Regions from separate parts of the Homo sapiens genome. Here region 2 is linked to region 1. Evidence: fine-mapped expression QTL. Tissue or cell type: whole blood. Region 1 holds a variant in brackets; the other region holds the start of a gene. All regions are shown on one strand. Distances are between the middles of the regions.

Evidence for each region. PIP is the estimated chance that this variant, and not a neighbour inherited with it, causes the effect.
Region 2: ZNF641 starts here. The variant in region 1 is fine-mapped to the expression of ZNF641 in whole blood (INTERVAL, PIP above 0.99).

What each region holds. Positions count from the first base shown.
Region 1 is chr12:48,268,734-48,276,839 of GRCh38, forward strand. No RefSeq gene overlaps it. Among named protein-coding and RNA genes, the nearest start is that of H1-7, 56 kb to the right of the region's middle. The variant G/C (reference allele first, on the strand shown) is at 4,326.
Region 2 is chr12:48,346,726-48,354,822 of GRCh38, forward strand. ZNF641 (zinc finger protein 641) reads right to left here and starts at 4,194. Exons shown (of 6, transcript NM_001172681.2): 1 at 4,061-4,194; 2 at 1,182-1,390; 3 at 527-618. The coding sequence starts at 1,365. RefSeq lists enhancers at 3,705-3,774, 4,213-4,949 and silencers at 3,915-4,344, 4,625-4,704.

The DNA.
Region 1 (8,106 bases):
TTTATAGGCATGAACCACAATGCCCAGCAAATTTTTGCCATTCTTTAATTGGGTGTATAAGCCTTTGAGGGTACAAGCATCAGTGATTATCTCATTTTCAACTCCCTACATTATGTAGGTCTATGCCTTTGCTTCCTCTTCTAGCATAATCATTTGTAACCTCTTATTTGTTAAAATCTGCAAACATTTCCTGACAAAATGGCGTTAGCACCTAACTGTCATTCTGACTTTCAGCTTTTACTCTTTTTGCCCACTGAGGACTTTTCTTATTTTCTTGAAAGCTCAGTAAGCATTTGATAGGATTTAATAAATATTTTATATAGCATTGCCAGGGTTTTATAGTTATGTGGGAGGGAGAATGGAAAGGTGGTTTAGTAATGGAAACCTTTCCCCAAATCCTTTTCTTTATTGAGATATAATAATTGATGAATCAGTACCAATAAATTTATTATTTGCTAAAGTCCATTGTTTACCATTAGCGTTCACTCTTTGTGTTGTATTTTCTGTGTTTTGACAAATATATAATGGCATGGATATACTATTATAGTATCATACAGAATAATACCTATTCATCCTCCACCTATTCATCCCTCTTTTCTTCCTGCTAAATAGCTAGCAACCACTGATTTTTTTTAACCATTTCCATGTTTTGTCTTTTCCTGAACATTATATAGTTGGAATCATACAAGACGTAGTCTTTTTAGATAGGCTTCTTTCGCATAGCAATATATATTTAAGGATCATCCATATATTTTTTGTGGCTTCATAGCTAATTTCTTTTTATTGTTGAATAATATTCCACTGTAAAGATGTACCACAGTCTGTTCATCCATTGACCTACTGAATGACATCTTGGTTGCTTCCAAGTTTGGATAGTTGTGAAAAAAAGCTGCTATAAACATTTGTGTGCAGTTTTCATCTCATTCAGTAGATACCAAGGACTGTGACTGCTGGATCATATGGTAAGAGCATGTTTAGTTTTGTAAGAAATTGCCAAACTGGATTCCAAAATGGTTGTACAATTTTGCATTCCCATCAGCCATAAATGAGACTTCTCATTGCTCCACATCCTTGCTAGCATTTGTGTTGCCAATATTTGGGATTTTAGCCATCCTAATAGGTATGCAGTTGTATCACACTGATGTTTTAATTTGCAATTCCCTAATGATAGATGATTGAACATCTTTTCATACACACATTTTCCATTTGCATGTCTTCTTTGGTGAGGAGTCTGCTCAGATTTTTGTCCACTGTTTGATTAGGTTGTTGTTTTCTTATTGTTGAGTTATAAACATTTTTGTATATTTTGGACACCAGTCCCATAACAGATACATGTTTTGCAAATATTTTCTTGCAGTCTATGGCTGGTTTTATTCTCTGAGCATTGGCTTTCACAAAAGCACAAGTTTTTAATTTTAGTGAAATACAACTTAGCTTTTTCTTTTATGCATCATGCTGTTGGTGGTGTTATCTAAAAAGTCATTGTCAAAGCTAAGGTCACCTAGATTTTCTTCTATATTATTTCTAGTATTTTTATAGTTTTTAATTTTATATTTAGGTCTATAATGTATTTGAGTTAATTGTTGTGAAAGGTGTAAAATCTATGTGTAGATTCATTTCTTTGCATGTGGATGTCTAATTTTTTTCAGCACTATTTGTTGAAAAGAATATCCTTTCTTTGTTTAATTGCCTTTGCTCCTTTGTCAAAGATCAATTGACTATATTTGTATGGGTTTATGTCTGGGCTCACTATTCCATTCCATTAGCCTATTTCTTTCTTTCTTTTTTTTGCCAATACCACACTTCTAATTATTATAGTTTTATATTAAGTCTTTTTTTTTTTAAGTTCCAGGGTACATGTGCAGGATGTGCAGGTTTGTTACATAGGTAAATAAACATGTGCCATGGTGGTCTGCTGCACCTATCAACCCATCAGGTAGGTATTAAGCCCCACATGCTTTAGCTCTTTTCCCTAATGCTCTCCCCCTATATTGAGCTTTGAAGCTGGGGAGTGTCAGTTCTCCAATTTTGTTCTCCTTCAATATTGTGTTGGCTATTTTGGGTCTTTTGCCTTTCTGTATAAACTGAAGAATCCGTTTTTTATACTTGCAAAATAACCTGCTGTGTTCTTTTTTTCAAAATTGTTTTGGATACTTTAGTTCATTTGCATTGCCAAATACATTTTAGAATTCGTTTTCTGATTTCTACGAAAATTTGTCTAGTATCTTTATGGAGATTGTTTTGAATCTATATATCAGTGAGGGAGAAAGGATATTTTAACAATATTTAGTTTTCCAATTCATGAACACAATATATCTTTTCACTTATTTATGTCTCCTTTGATTTCTTTTTTTCTTTGTAGTTTTTATCATAAAGGTATTGTAGATGTCTTGTTAGACACAATTTTGGACATTGACGTTGCTGAACTGACTTATTTTGCAGATTCTCTGTCAACAACCATGTCATCTGTGAATAGAGACAGCTTTCATTATGTCTTTCTCTCTCTCTCTTTTTTTTTTTTTTTTTTTTTCTGAAACGGAGTCTCGCACTGTCGCCTGGTCTGGAGCGCAGTGGCGCTATCTCGGCTCACTTCAATCTCCGCCTCCCAGGCTCAAGCGGTTCTCCTGCCTCAGCCTCCCGAGTACCTGGGATTACAGGTGCCCGCCACTACACCTGGCTAATTTTTTGTATTTTTAGTAGAGAGGGGTTTCTCTATGTTGGCCAGGCTGGTCTCAAACTCCTGACCTTGTGATCCACCTGCCTCGGCCTCCCAAAGTGCTGGGATTATAGGCGTGAGCCACTGCGCGCGGCCTCATTTATTTCTCTCTAATCTGTATCCCTTTTCTTCCTCCCTCTGCCCACCTTCTCTCTTTGTCACTCATTTCTTTCTTTTCTTTTTATTCCTTTTTTTCTTTTGGCATTATTTTACAGGCTAGACCTTCTGTATAATGTTGAATAAGAGTGGTGATAACAGATATTTTTGCCTTTTCTCAGTCTTAGGATAAAAAGATTTGGTCCATCATTATTAAATACACTATTTTAAGGTACTCTTAGAATATCTACTACTGCAGATTTTTTAAGGTATTCTTTTTCAGTTCAGAAAGGTTTCCTTCTATACATAGTTTCCAAGAGGTTTGGTAATAAATGGGTGTGGAATTTTTCTGCCTACTTTTGTATTTAACTTTTTTTTTTTTTTTGAGTCAAAGTCTCGCTCTGTTGCTCAGGCTGGAGTGCAGTGGCGCGATCTCGGCTCACTGCAAGCTCCGCCTCCCGGGTTCAGGCCATTCTCCTGTCTCCTGCCTCAGCCTCCCGAGTAGCTGGGACTACTGGCGCCTGCCACCACGCCCGGCTAATTTTTTGTATTTTTAATAGAGACAGGGTTTCACCATGTTAGCCAGGATGGTCTTAATCTCCTGACCTCCTGATCCGCCTGCCTTGGCCTCCCAAAGTGCTGGGATTATAGGCGTGAGCCACCACGACCAGCCGTATTAAACTTTTTTAAATGATTTCATTTTATCTTCACTATTGGCTTATCATTTATACATCTTTACAGTTTTTAAGTGGCTGCCCTAGAATTTTTTTTATTATTATTATACTTTAAGTTCTAGGGTACATGAGCAGAACGTGCAGTTTTGTTACATGGGTATACATGTTCTGTTTATGTGATGGATTATGGTTATTGATTTGCATATGTTGAACCAGCCTTGCATCCCAGGAATGAAGGTGACTTGACCGTGGTGGATAAGCTTTATGATGTGCTGCTGGATTTGGTTTGCCAGTATTTTATTGAGGATTTTTGCATTGATGTTCATCAGGGATATTGGCCTGAAATTTTCTTTTTTTGTTGTGTCTCTGCCAGGTTTTAGTATCAGAATGATGGTGGCCTCATAAAATGAGTTAGGGAGGATTCCCTCTTTTTCTATTGTTTGGAATAGTTTCAGAAGGAATGGTACCAGCTCCTCTTTGTACCTCTGGTAGAATTCGGCTATGAATCCATCTGGTTCTGGACTTTTTTTGGTTGGTAGGCTATTAATTAGTGCCTCAATTTCAGAACTTTTTATTGGTCTATTCAGGGATTCGACTTCTTCCTGGTTTAGACTTGGGAGGGTGTATGTGTCCAGGAATTTATCCATTTCTCCTAGATTTTCTAGTTTATTTGCATAGATGTGTTTACAGTATTCTCTGATGGTAGTTTGTATTTCTGTGGGATCGGTGGTGATATCCCCCATATCATTTTTTATTGCGTCTGTTTGATTCTTCTCTCTTTTCTTCTTTATTAGTCTGGCTAGCAGTCTATCTATTTTGTGGATCTTTTCAAAACACCA[G/C]CTCCTGGATGCATTGATTTTTTGAAGGGTTTTTTGTGTCTCTATTTCCTTCAGTTCTGCTCTGATCTTAGTTATTTCTTGTCTTCTGCTAGCTTTTGAATTTGTTTGCTCTTGCTTCTCTAGTTCTTTTAATTGTGATGTTAGACTGTCAATTTTAGATCTTTCTGGCATTTAGTGTTATAAATTTCCCTCTACACACTGCTTTAAATATGTCCCAGAGATTCTGGCATGTTGTGTCTTTGTTCTCATTGGTTTCAATAAACATCTTTATATCTGCCTTCATTTCGTTATTTACCCAGTAGTCATTCAGGAGCAAGTTGTTCAGTTTCCATGTAGTTTTGTGGTTTTGAGTGGGTTTCTTAATCCTGAGTTCTAATTTGATTGCACTGTGGTCTGAGAGGCTGTTTGTTATGATTTCCGTTCTTTTGCATTTGCTGAGGAGTGTTTTACTTCCAATTGTGTGGTCAATTTTAGAATAAGTGTGATGAGGTGCTGAGAAGAGTGTACATTCTCTTGATTTGCAGTGGAGAGTTTTGTAGATGTCCTTTAGGTCTGCTTGGTCCAGAGCTGAGTTGAAGTCCTGAATATCCTTGTTAATTTTCTGTCTCATTGATATGTCTAATATTGACAGTAGGGTATTAAAATCTCCCACTACTATTGTGTGGGAGTCTAAGTCTCTTTGTAGGTCTCTAAGAATTTGCTTTATGAATCTGGGTGCTCCTGTATTGGGTGCATATATATTTAGGATAGTTAGCTCTTCTTGTTGAATTGATCCCTTTACCATTATGTAATGCCGTTCTTTGTCTCTTTTGATCTTTGTTGATTTAAAGTCTGTTTTATCAGAGATTAGGATTGTGACTCCTGCTTTTTTTCTTTTTTCTTTTTTTTTGCTTTCCATTTGCTTGGTAAATATTCCTCCATCCCTTTATCCCTTTATTTTGAGTCTATGTGTGTCTTTGCACATGAGATGAGTCTCCTGAATACAGCACACTGATGGGTCTTGACTCTTTATCCAATTTGCCAGTCTGTGTCTTTTAATTGAGGCATTTTGCCCATTTACATTTAAGGTTAATATTGTTATGTGTGAATTTGATCCTGTCACTATGATGCTAGCTGGTTGTTTTGCCCCTTATCTGATGCAGTTTCTTCATAGTGTTGATGTTCTTTACAATTTGGCATGTTTTTGCAGTGGCTGGTACCAGTTGTTCCTTTCCATGTTTAGTGCTTCCTTCAGGAGCTCTTGAAAGGCAGGCCTGGTGGTGATAAAATCTCTCAGCATTTGCTTGTCTGTAAAGTATCTTATTTCTCCTTTGCTTATGAAGCTTAGTTTGGCTGGATATGAAATTCTGAGTTGAAAATTCTTTTCCTTAAAAATGTTGAATATTGGTTGGGCACAGTGGCTCACACCTGTAATCCCAGCACTTTGGGAGGCCGAGGTGTGCAGATCAGGAGGTCAGGAGATTGATACCATCCTGGCTAACGTGGTGAAACCCCATCTCTACTAAAAAAAATACAAAAAAAATTAGCCAGACATGGTGGTGGGTGCCTGTAGTCCCATGTACTCGGGAGGCTGAGGCAGGAGAATGGCATGAACCCAGGAGACGGAGCTTGCAGTGAGCAGAGATTGTGCCACCGCACTCCAGCCTGGGTGATAGAGCGAGACACCATCTCAAAAAAAAAAAAAAAAAAAAAAAGAATGTTCAATATTTCCCCCCACTCTCTTCTGGCTTGTAGGGTTTCTGCAAAGAGATCCACTGTTAGCCTGATGGGCTTCCCTTTGTGGGTAAACTGACCTTTCTCTCTGGCTGTTTTTTCCTTCATTTCAACCTTGGTGAATCTGATGATTATGTGTCTTGGAGTTGCTCTTCTCGAGGAGTATCTTTGTGGTATTCTCTGTATTTCCTGAATTTGAATGTTGGCCTGTCTTGCTCGGTTGGGGAAGTTCTCCTGGATAATATCCTGAAGAGTGTTTTCTAACTTGGTTCCATTTTCCCTGTCACTTTCAGGTACTTCAATCAAACATAGATTTGGTCTTTTCACATAGTCCCATATTTCTTGGAGGCTTTGTTCATTCCTTTTTATTCTTTTTTCTCTAATCTTGTCTTCTCGCTTTATTTCATTAAGTTGATCTTCAATCCCTGATATCCTTTCTTCCATTTGATCGATTCCGCTATTGATACTTGTGTATGCTTCACGAAGTTCTCGTGCTGTGTTTTTCAGCTCCATCAGGTCATTTATGTTCTTCTCTAAACTGATTATTCTAGTTAGCAGTTCATCTAAGCTTTTTTCAAGGTTCTTAGCTTTCTTGAATTGGGTTAGAACATGCTCCTTTAGCTCGGAGGAGTTTGTTATTACCCACCTTCTGAAGCCTACTTCTGTGAATTCCTCAAACTCATTCTCCATCCAGATTTGTTCCCTTGCTGGCAAGGAGTTATGATCCTTTGGAGGAGAAGAGGTGTTGTGGTTTTTGGAATTTTCAGCCTTTTAGTGCTGGTTTCTCCCCATCTTTTTGGATTTATCTACCTTTGGTCTTTGATGTTGGTGACTTTCGGTTGGAGTCTTTGAGTGGACATGCTACTCCTTTCTGTTTGTTAGTTTTCCTTCTAACAGTCAGGCCTCTCCGCTGCAGGTCTGCTGGAATTTGCTGGAGGTCCACTCCCGACACTGTTTGCCTGGGTATCACCAGTGGAGGCTCAGTTGGAAATGCAGAAATCACCCATCTTCTGTGTTGATCTCACTGGGAGCTGCAGACTGGAGCTGTTCCTATTTGGCCATCTTGCCAGCAATCTGCCCTAGGAGTTTTCATAAACACATTTATTTAATCACAGTCTACCTTCAAATAGTATTATGCCACTTATGTGTAGCGTAATAACTTCCCTAATTTCTCTCACTCTTTATGCAATTGTTATATGTTTTACTTTTACTTGTGCTCCAAACCCAGAGTAGGTTGCCTTTGTTTTTGCTTTAGACAGTAAATTATCTTCTAAAGTTATTAACAAGAAAAAATATTTTATATTTACTTTGACTTTAACAATTCCAAAAGATCTTTGCATAGATTCAAGTTTCTGTCTAGTATTACATTCCTTCCTCTTAAAGAACTTTCCTTTTTTTTTTTTTCTTTTTTTTTTTTTTGAGATGTAGTCTCACTCTGTCACCCAGGCTGGAGTGCAGTGGCGCGATCTTGGCTCACTGCAAGCTCTGCATCCTGGGTTCATGCCATTCTCCTGCCTCAGCCTCCCAAGTAGCTGGGACTACAGACACCAACCACCATGCCCTGCTAATCTTTTTTGTATTTTTAGTAGAGACAGGGTTTCACCGTGTTAGCCAGGATGGTCTCAATCTCCTGACCTAGTGATCCACCCACCTTGGCCTCTCAAAATGCTGGGATTACAGGCGTGAGCCACCACACCCAGCCAAGAACTTTCTTTAACATTTCTTGTGGCATAGGTCTGCTTAATTTCTCTTTCATTTTGAAAAGTATTTTCACTTGGTATAGAATTCCATGTTACTTTTTTTTTCTTTTAACATTTTAAAGATGTCACTCTATGTCTTAGTTTCTTGTGATGACTATGCTGTAAATTTAATTTTTTTCCTTTAGGTAATGTGTCTTTTTTGTCTGACTGTCTTCTAGATTTTCTCTTTATCTTTGGTTTTCAAATGTTTAAATAGGACACATCGTGTGTGTGTAGTGTGTGTGTGTGTGTTGGTATTTATATCACTATGATTCTCTGAGCTTCTTGGATCTGTGGTTTGATGTCTTTCATTATTTTTTGAAAATTCT
Region 2 (8,097 bases), 78 kb after region 1:
CTTGGCCAGGCACGGTGGCTCATACCTGTGACCCCAGCACTTTGGGAGGCTGAGGTGGGCAGATCACCTGACGTCAGCAGTTCAAGACCAGCCTGGCCAACGTGGCAAAACCTTGTCTCTACTAAAAACACAAAAATTAGCTAGGTGTGGTGGCGTGTGCCAGTAGTCCCAGCTACTTGGGAGGCTGAAGCACAAGAATCGCTTGAACCCAGAAGGTGGAGGTTGCAGGGAGCCAAGATCATACCACTGCACTCCAACCAGGGCAACACAGTGAGATTCTGTCTCAAAAACAAAAAACAAAACAAAACTCAAAAAAACCCTAACCTCAAGGAATTCCCTTTCTTGTAGGTCCATTTAATTTTCCAAGGGTCTTATGACCCCTTGGAAAGGGATAGAATCTATTCAGTTATAAGATGAACATACCATTGATGATCATGTGAGCCAACTCATCAATGGGCTGATGCGAAAGCAATACAAAGGCAGCAGTGATGGGACCACAGGAGACGCCAAGGGAAGCAGAGCTCACCTGTGATCCAGCCGCAAGAAGTGCAGCTGCCATCTCCCAGTCTCCAGTGTTCCCCTCCTGGGGAATTGCAGGAACCCAGGGAGCAGACTGAGCTGATAAGGAGAGAGAAGAAACATTAGAGAATAACGATCTACCCTTTCTCAATGGGGCCTGGGCCCCATTTTAGAGAGGCTTAAGGGTCACAACTTCTGTATCTATGCCCATTGGTAAAACTCAAATGCATAAATGTAGATGAGAAGGCCATCACTCAAAATGTTCTGAAAGGGTATCAGATGGCTTTTAGTTAGACTAGCTATAGTTTGAATTTACAGTACTTGAATGTAATTTTCATCTAGTAAATTACATCTTACTGAGTGGGTTATCCAACAGTAATCAGGTTGCTGTCACTTCCTTCATCTCCCTCATTCAGTATCACTAATTATGCATTTGCATGTGGAGGGAGTAATTATGAAGAAACAAGAGAAGCCCAGTTGCATGGTTTGCTGAATTCAGGAGCCTATTCTGTACCTGTGACCAGGGCTGAGAAAGAATGGGCTGGTCCTGGTACAGGTTATGCTATTTAGTCCATGGCAATTTGGAGATTTTTAACCCTACTTTTGGAATAAATATTAGGAGACTATGCACTGTGCTTCCCACACACTCTGTGAGTTCTCACCCTTCTCCTGAAGGGACTGTGGCTCCTCTTCAAGGTCACAGCACAGGTGCTCCAGAGGTCCTGGTACTGTTCTCCATGGCCGCTCTTCCTGGCTTCCCCTTTCCACCTGGGGCTCTGCTCCATCCAGCTGTACATTCATTGATTCCCATCCTGTCCCCAGCGCTGCTGTCTGTTCTGAAAGCATTTCTGCTGCAGACCCAAATTGTGACCTGGAACAAATTCATATCAGCAATGCCCATGAAAATGGGAAAGGAGTGATATTTCTAAGGGAGTTATGAAGAACAGGCCCAGGGATAATAGACAAAACTAGATAGGAGGAGCTTGCTGGAAGATGAACTTTAAAAGCTTGATGTGTTCCGATCAACGGAGCCTGCACCAAGCTTCTTGGAGGAACTAAGAAATTGGCAGGTGCTACGTAGCAAAGCCACTAACTGGTATTTTGTGGACCTCATTATAGAAACAGAATATACCTGAAGGTTAGAAGAAGTTCATTTAAAAAAAAAGAACTGTCCTGGAAATTCAAAGGCTATCCATTTAATTTCAAGCACATGAAGTACAGGAAAGTAAGCAATTTGGAAACATACAGGAAGAAATACATATAGACCTGCACTCAACAAGATGGATGTAATCACACAGAAGATTTTCTGCCACAAATCACAGTCTCATCAGTTTAGAATGAAATGATTACTATAGGTAAAAGTCCCAACCAAGGGGCGTATTTGTATCATGAGGCTGGGCCAAAAGGTACCTCACTTGGGACAAGCCTCAATAAAAAGGCACTTGGTCTACCATCCAATGAAAACTGGTAGTAAATATGGTAGAAAAACTGATAACTTGGAAAGCAGGTGTTAAGACTCCAAAGTAATCCTAAGAGGTAAGAGAAATTGTTGGTCTGTGAGGAGCTGAAGTTTAATCAGGAAAAGTAAAAAGGAACAGAAAGAGTTTGAACCAGAGCTGGAAAAGGGGGGAAGAACTGCTGCTAACATGACCCAGAAGAACAAACCTGTTTATTTGTCAGGCACCAGTCAGATCTCATTAGAAAAATATATTCAGTTTGAAAGAAGCGTATGGTGAAGCCAGTGTGTGTTCATCAGAAAACATCAAAGTCAAGAAAGGGATTGGAAATACAGCCACTGGGAAAGTTAAAAATGTCGGATGTAGTTTTCTCTGTCTGGAGAAGAAGGCTGATGAATGATGCTACTAATGAATAAAAACAGAGGTCCCTTCTATCTCTATATAGGTCAAACAGAAAAAAATGGGTCTTGATTGCAAGAGAAGAGATTTAGGTTATTTTTTTTTAATTCTTAATAATCCTGCAGTGTACAATACCAGATAGTGGGCTCTTCTTTTTCTTTAGACAACTTAAGAGCAGGATGGGTCACACTTCTGTTGTGATAGGGCTTTATGGCAGAGAAATAATCTGAGACTCAGAATCTCTTTCTGTTTGGCAACATATTTTGGGTATTCTTATTCAATATCCAAACAGTCAGAGTCAGTGAAAGGCTTCCAAGAGCAGTCAGAAACTTGGTAACTATCCTGGCTTACTTACATCCTTTCAATAACACTTGCAAGAACCTTGAAGGCCAGGGTAGGTAATCACAGATGTCAAGTCGTCTATTTTCTTGCCTATTTGTCTTTGACAAAAGAGGTAGGTGGGAACCCTAAGCCCAATGCACAGGAAAAACAAATTCCCTTTTTATCTCAGAAGTCCAAAGATGGCTCAGGGCCTCATGGGAGCACCCTGGACTGATTCCCAGCCTAGGAGGTTTCCTTTTCAGAGACTTTTCATGAGAAAGGAAAATTCTTGCTAAAGCAATAAAGGGAAACTTCCATTTTAGCTCTCTTCTCTGAATTCCAGCTCTGTATCCACTTTTAACACACAGGGCACTAATTCTCCCTCTTCGTCCCATCTTTCTGGTTCTCTAGCTCCTGTGCAAATCCTCCCTGAAGGCTTTACCTCTAGCTACATATCTGGACACTTGTCTCAAACCCTTTCTCCATCTCCCCCAGGTAGCAGAGTCTCTTAATGGGAAGCCTCTTTGTGCAGAGCCCATTGGGCCAGCTGTAAGTTTTTCTATACCACTGACAGAAATCCGTGGAAGTGCTAGCAAAAATCTCAGCAAAGGATGGGATGGGTACCTGTCCTCAGCTTGCATTTCCTAAGATATTCACGCAGAGCCAGCACCTGGGCGGTTAAGGTGGTAGCCCTAACCTCGTTTCTCCTGGTTCCAGGATGATCCCATGCCCACTGCAGTGTGGGTTCTAGGGCTTTCATTTCCCCCTTTTCTTCACACATATGGGTAGCAAGGGACCTGCAAAAGGAAGTTTCTGCAGCCAGTGCTGATGAACAGAAAAGGGGCCATGTTATAAAAATGAGTAGCCCAAGGGCACACGGACGAGTTGGCTCCGTCCATCAGAGAACCCTGGCCCCTGCCACGGGTAGGGCATGGGCGGGACGGGAGCCTGCTCAGGGGTAAGGTTGCTTCTTCCCTTCTTCTTGTCACAGTGCCCCTGGAAAGGGTCAGATTTCAGAGAATCCGAGCAAGGCAGAACTGGAGCAGGGGAAGTGAGGTCAGAAAACAGGTTTCCCATGAGCTGGGGCATGAGCAAGTGAAGAGAAAGGGAGCCACGGGGTAACCTGTGCGCGAGTGACAGCGGCGGGAGCCCGCAGGGCCTGACAGTTGCGATGGGCACGGGGAGACAGGGCGAGAGGCGGGCACAGAATGTCAGCGGGGCAGACCCCCGGGAAAGGCAGCAACCCGGAAGACGCGCCGATCCTCCTCCCAGCCCCTATGGGTGACCGAGCCCCCACCAGCCGCCCCGGGAAGCCAGGCGTCCCTCCCTCCAGCCGCAGCTCCCTCCGGCCCGGCTCCACTCACCCCCGGTAGGCTTGGCCCGCGGCCCGGTGCCTCCCTCCCGGGCGCCGCCTGCCCCTCCCCTCCGCCCTCCGCTTGCGTCTGGGAGCCGGCGGCCGGCGGAGCCAGCGACAGGCGGAGACGGCGGCCCGGCAGGCGCGGGCGGGGCGGGGCGGGCACAGGAAATCCCCGCCCGCTTCCGGGGCTCTGCGGCGGCGGAGGTGCGGGGAGTGGGAGGGAGAGGAGTGGGAGGGAGAGGAGTGGGAGGGAGGGAGGGAGGGAGGGACGGGAGGGGGCGGGGCTGCGGCTCAGGCGCCCCCAAACGCGAACCCGGGACCTCCGCGCCCGCCGCTGTGGGGAGGGTGCGGCCCGAGACGCTTGGAGGGCGGCGGGCGCCGGAATCGCAGCCTGCTGTGGCCACTTGCCCGCACTCTTGCCTGACTGACCATTTTCCGCTCTGGCTACTGGGCCTCCCACGGAGTTCTGTCCTCAGGGTTCGTCAATTACCTGGAATTGCGTAACCGCCCGTTACAGGCCAGACCGAGGCCGAGAGCGATTTCTCCAGACAACAGTCTGGAATTCCTCAAGGAGCGTACCCTCTAGTTTTCACGATAGGATAAAGGGCTTGAGAGAGCACTGAGGAGGAGTCACTTATTCTGCCTGAGGGGAAGTCAGGTTGCTATCTGAAGTTGGCCTTGCGGCTGCTGTCCCATTTGCGGGAGCCGTAGCCGCAGGTGACACCTGAGCTCTCGAAATGTGGCTGGTCTGAATAGAGATGTGTTCCAAGATTTAGAAGATTTAATTTAAAAAGTGATATTTTGGGTATATTGGGTTAAATATATTAAAATTAATTTCACCTGGTTTTAACTTTTTAAATGTGGCTATAAATATGGCTTGCATTATATTTCTATTGGATAGTGCTACCTTGCAGCATTAAGATGGATTTGACTAGAAAAGATGAGAAGGGCCTACAAACAGTGAGTAAACCCATTGCTGTTAGAATCTGTTTATAACCTACAAGTCACATTCACATTCCTTATTTCATCATTACAACAATTTTCAAAAATTTTATTTAGTAGACTTAAAAAATAATTGACTCACTTAAGGTCATATGTGACAATCATTCGTTTAATGCATATTTATTTTCTACGTGTGCCAGACACTGTAACTAAATGCTGGGAGTTAAAGGATTCACAGTCTGGGGAAGCACATGTCAACAAATATTTGCAATAAAAACGTAGATTCTAAAACAGAGGAACGTACGCTGCACTTGAAGCAAAGAGAAGTGACCACGTATGGGACGGAGGTCAGAGAAGGCCCCCCACTCTGACAGAAATCGTGAGGCAGAGAAGAGTCAGGAGGGCTGTCTAATGAAAGAGGAAAATGCAGTAGACACGCAGTTGGGAAGAGTATAGAGCATATTCTAGGAGCAGATCATGGGATATGTCGGGGTAGTAGTAGAGCCAGAATTTTTATCCCGGGTCCTGGAACTAAGTCCAGGGGTTCTTTTCACTTATGCTACCACTGGTGGTAAATATAAGGTGCGTTAATTGGAGTAGGCTAGCAAAACCAGTATCTCGGGGCTTAACTCCATAAAGGCTTATGTTCATACAAGTCACAGTGTGGTAACAAGTTGGTTGGGGCCAGAGGGTGGGGTCTGTACTTCTTGAATTCATTGAAGGACCAGGCTTCTTGCATTTGGTGGTTCTCCCATGCCGAGGCCTTGGTAATGTAGTCAAATCTGTGGCCCTCAGATAAGGGAGGCTGGCCGTGGTTAACTTGTCAGAGATATTAGGGGCCAGTCCTGGAAGTGGTGTGTATCATTTTCACCCCATTCCCTTAGCCAGAACTCATGCGCATGGTCACATGGCCCTACCCAGAAGGGTGGCTGGGAAGTAAAGAATGTGTGCCTCATGGAAAAGGAAATGGGCGCTGCTGGACACAGCATTGCCTCGTCACACAGAGTTAAATTGAACATAACCAAGTACGTAAACCTGACTTTACCTGAAAAGAATGTTTGGAAAGAACTGATAGATATTATAATAGCCCAAACTCTCCTCGACTGTTTTGGGAAACAAATCAGTGTGAGATTGTTTCCAAAAAATAAAAAAAGCCAGGTGCAGTGTCTCATGCCTGTAATCCCAGCACTTTGGGAGGTAGAGGCGGGCGGATCACAAGGTCAGGAGTTCAAAACCAGCCTGGCCAACATAGTGAAACCCTGTCTCTAGCTGGGCATGGTGGTGCGTGCCTGTAGTCCCAGCTACTTGGGAGGCTGAGGCAGGAGAATCGCTTGAAACCAGGAGGTGGAAGTTGCAGTGAGCAGAGATCGTGCCACTAATACTCCAGCTTGGGCAACAGAATGAGACTTCGTCTCAAAAAAAAAAAAAAAAAAAGAGGCTGAATGGTATCATCTTCTTTATACCAGAACCTTTTCTTTTTAAAAATAACTTTTATAATTTTAAATTTGTGTAGTTACATAATAGGTGAATATCTTTATGGGGTACATGAGATATTTTGATGCAGGTATGCAATGCATGATAATCACATCATGGGAATCAGGTATCCATCCCCTCAAGCATTTATCCTTTGTGTTACAAACAATCCAATTATACCCTTTTAGTTACTTTAAAATGTACAGTTATTATTGACTATAATAACTATTAAATACTAGGTCTATTAAATACTAGGTTGTTCTATTAAATACTAGGTCTTATTCATGCATTCAAACTATTTTTTGTACCCATTAACCATCCTCACTGTCCCCATTCCCCCATTACCCTTCCCAGCCTCTGGTAACCATCCTTCTACTCTCTATCTCCATGGGTTGAATTGTTTTGATTTTTAGATCCTCCAAATAAGTGAGAACATGTGATGTTTGTCTTTCTGTGTCTGGCTTATTTCGCTTAACATAATGACTTCCAGTTCCATCCATGTTGTTGCAAATGACTAAATCTCATTCTTTTTTTATGGCTGAATAGTGCTCCATTGTGTGTAAGTACCATTTGTTCTTTATTCATTCATCTGTTAATGGACACTTAGATTGCTTCCAAATCTTGGCTATGGTGAACAGAGCTGCAACAAACATGGGAATGCAGATATCTCTTTGATAAACTGATTTCCTTTCTTTTAGGTATATACCCAGCAGTGGGATTGCTGGATCATATAGGAGCTCAATTTTTAGTTTTTTTGAGGAACCTCCAAACTGTTCTCCCTAGTAGTTATACTAATTTACATTCCCACTAGCAGTGTATGAGGGTTCCCTTTTCTCTACATCCTTACCAGCATTTGTTATTGCCTGCTTTTTGAATATAAGCCATTTTAACAGGAGTGAGATGATATCTCATTGGAGTTTTGATTTGCATTTCTCTGATGATCAGTAATATTGAGCACCTTCTCATATGTCTGTTTGCCATTTGTATGTATTCTTTTGAGAAATGTCTATTCAAATCTTTTGCCTATTTTTTAACCAGAGTATTAGATTTTTTCCTGTAGAGTTGCTTGAGATCCTTATATATTCTGGTTATTAATCTCTTATCAGATAAGTAGTTTGCAAATATTTTCTCCCATTCTGTGTGTTGTCTCTTCAATTTGTTGATTGCTTCTTTTGCTGTGCAGAAGCTTTTTAACTTGATGTGACCCCGTTTGTCCATTTTTGCTTTGGTCGTCCGTACTTGTACAGAACCTTGTCTTAAACATCACAAGGAATAAATTCAAAATGTCTTTATATTATGCTTTGGTGTGCCATCTCTTTAGTTATCAGTTAACAAACCCTGCAAGGTGTAGATCTGCATGGGTTCAGGGACATTAAGTGAGCCAAGAGGCACAATCAGGAATTGAGCCCTGGTCTGACTTCTCACTGGGTGCACCTTTAACCAGAGTGGTACTTTACCTTTTACAATGGACAAGTACAAACTCCTATGCAATGTTACAGCAGGGATTAATTAACTATGCATTGAGTAGCAGGCAGATGATTCCATCTTTTTCAGACTTTCTGATGGAGGAGTTTCAAGATCAGCTTTGAAGGTGAAATGTAGGAAGGGCATCCCATATAGAATCAGAAG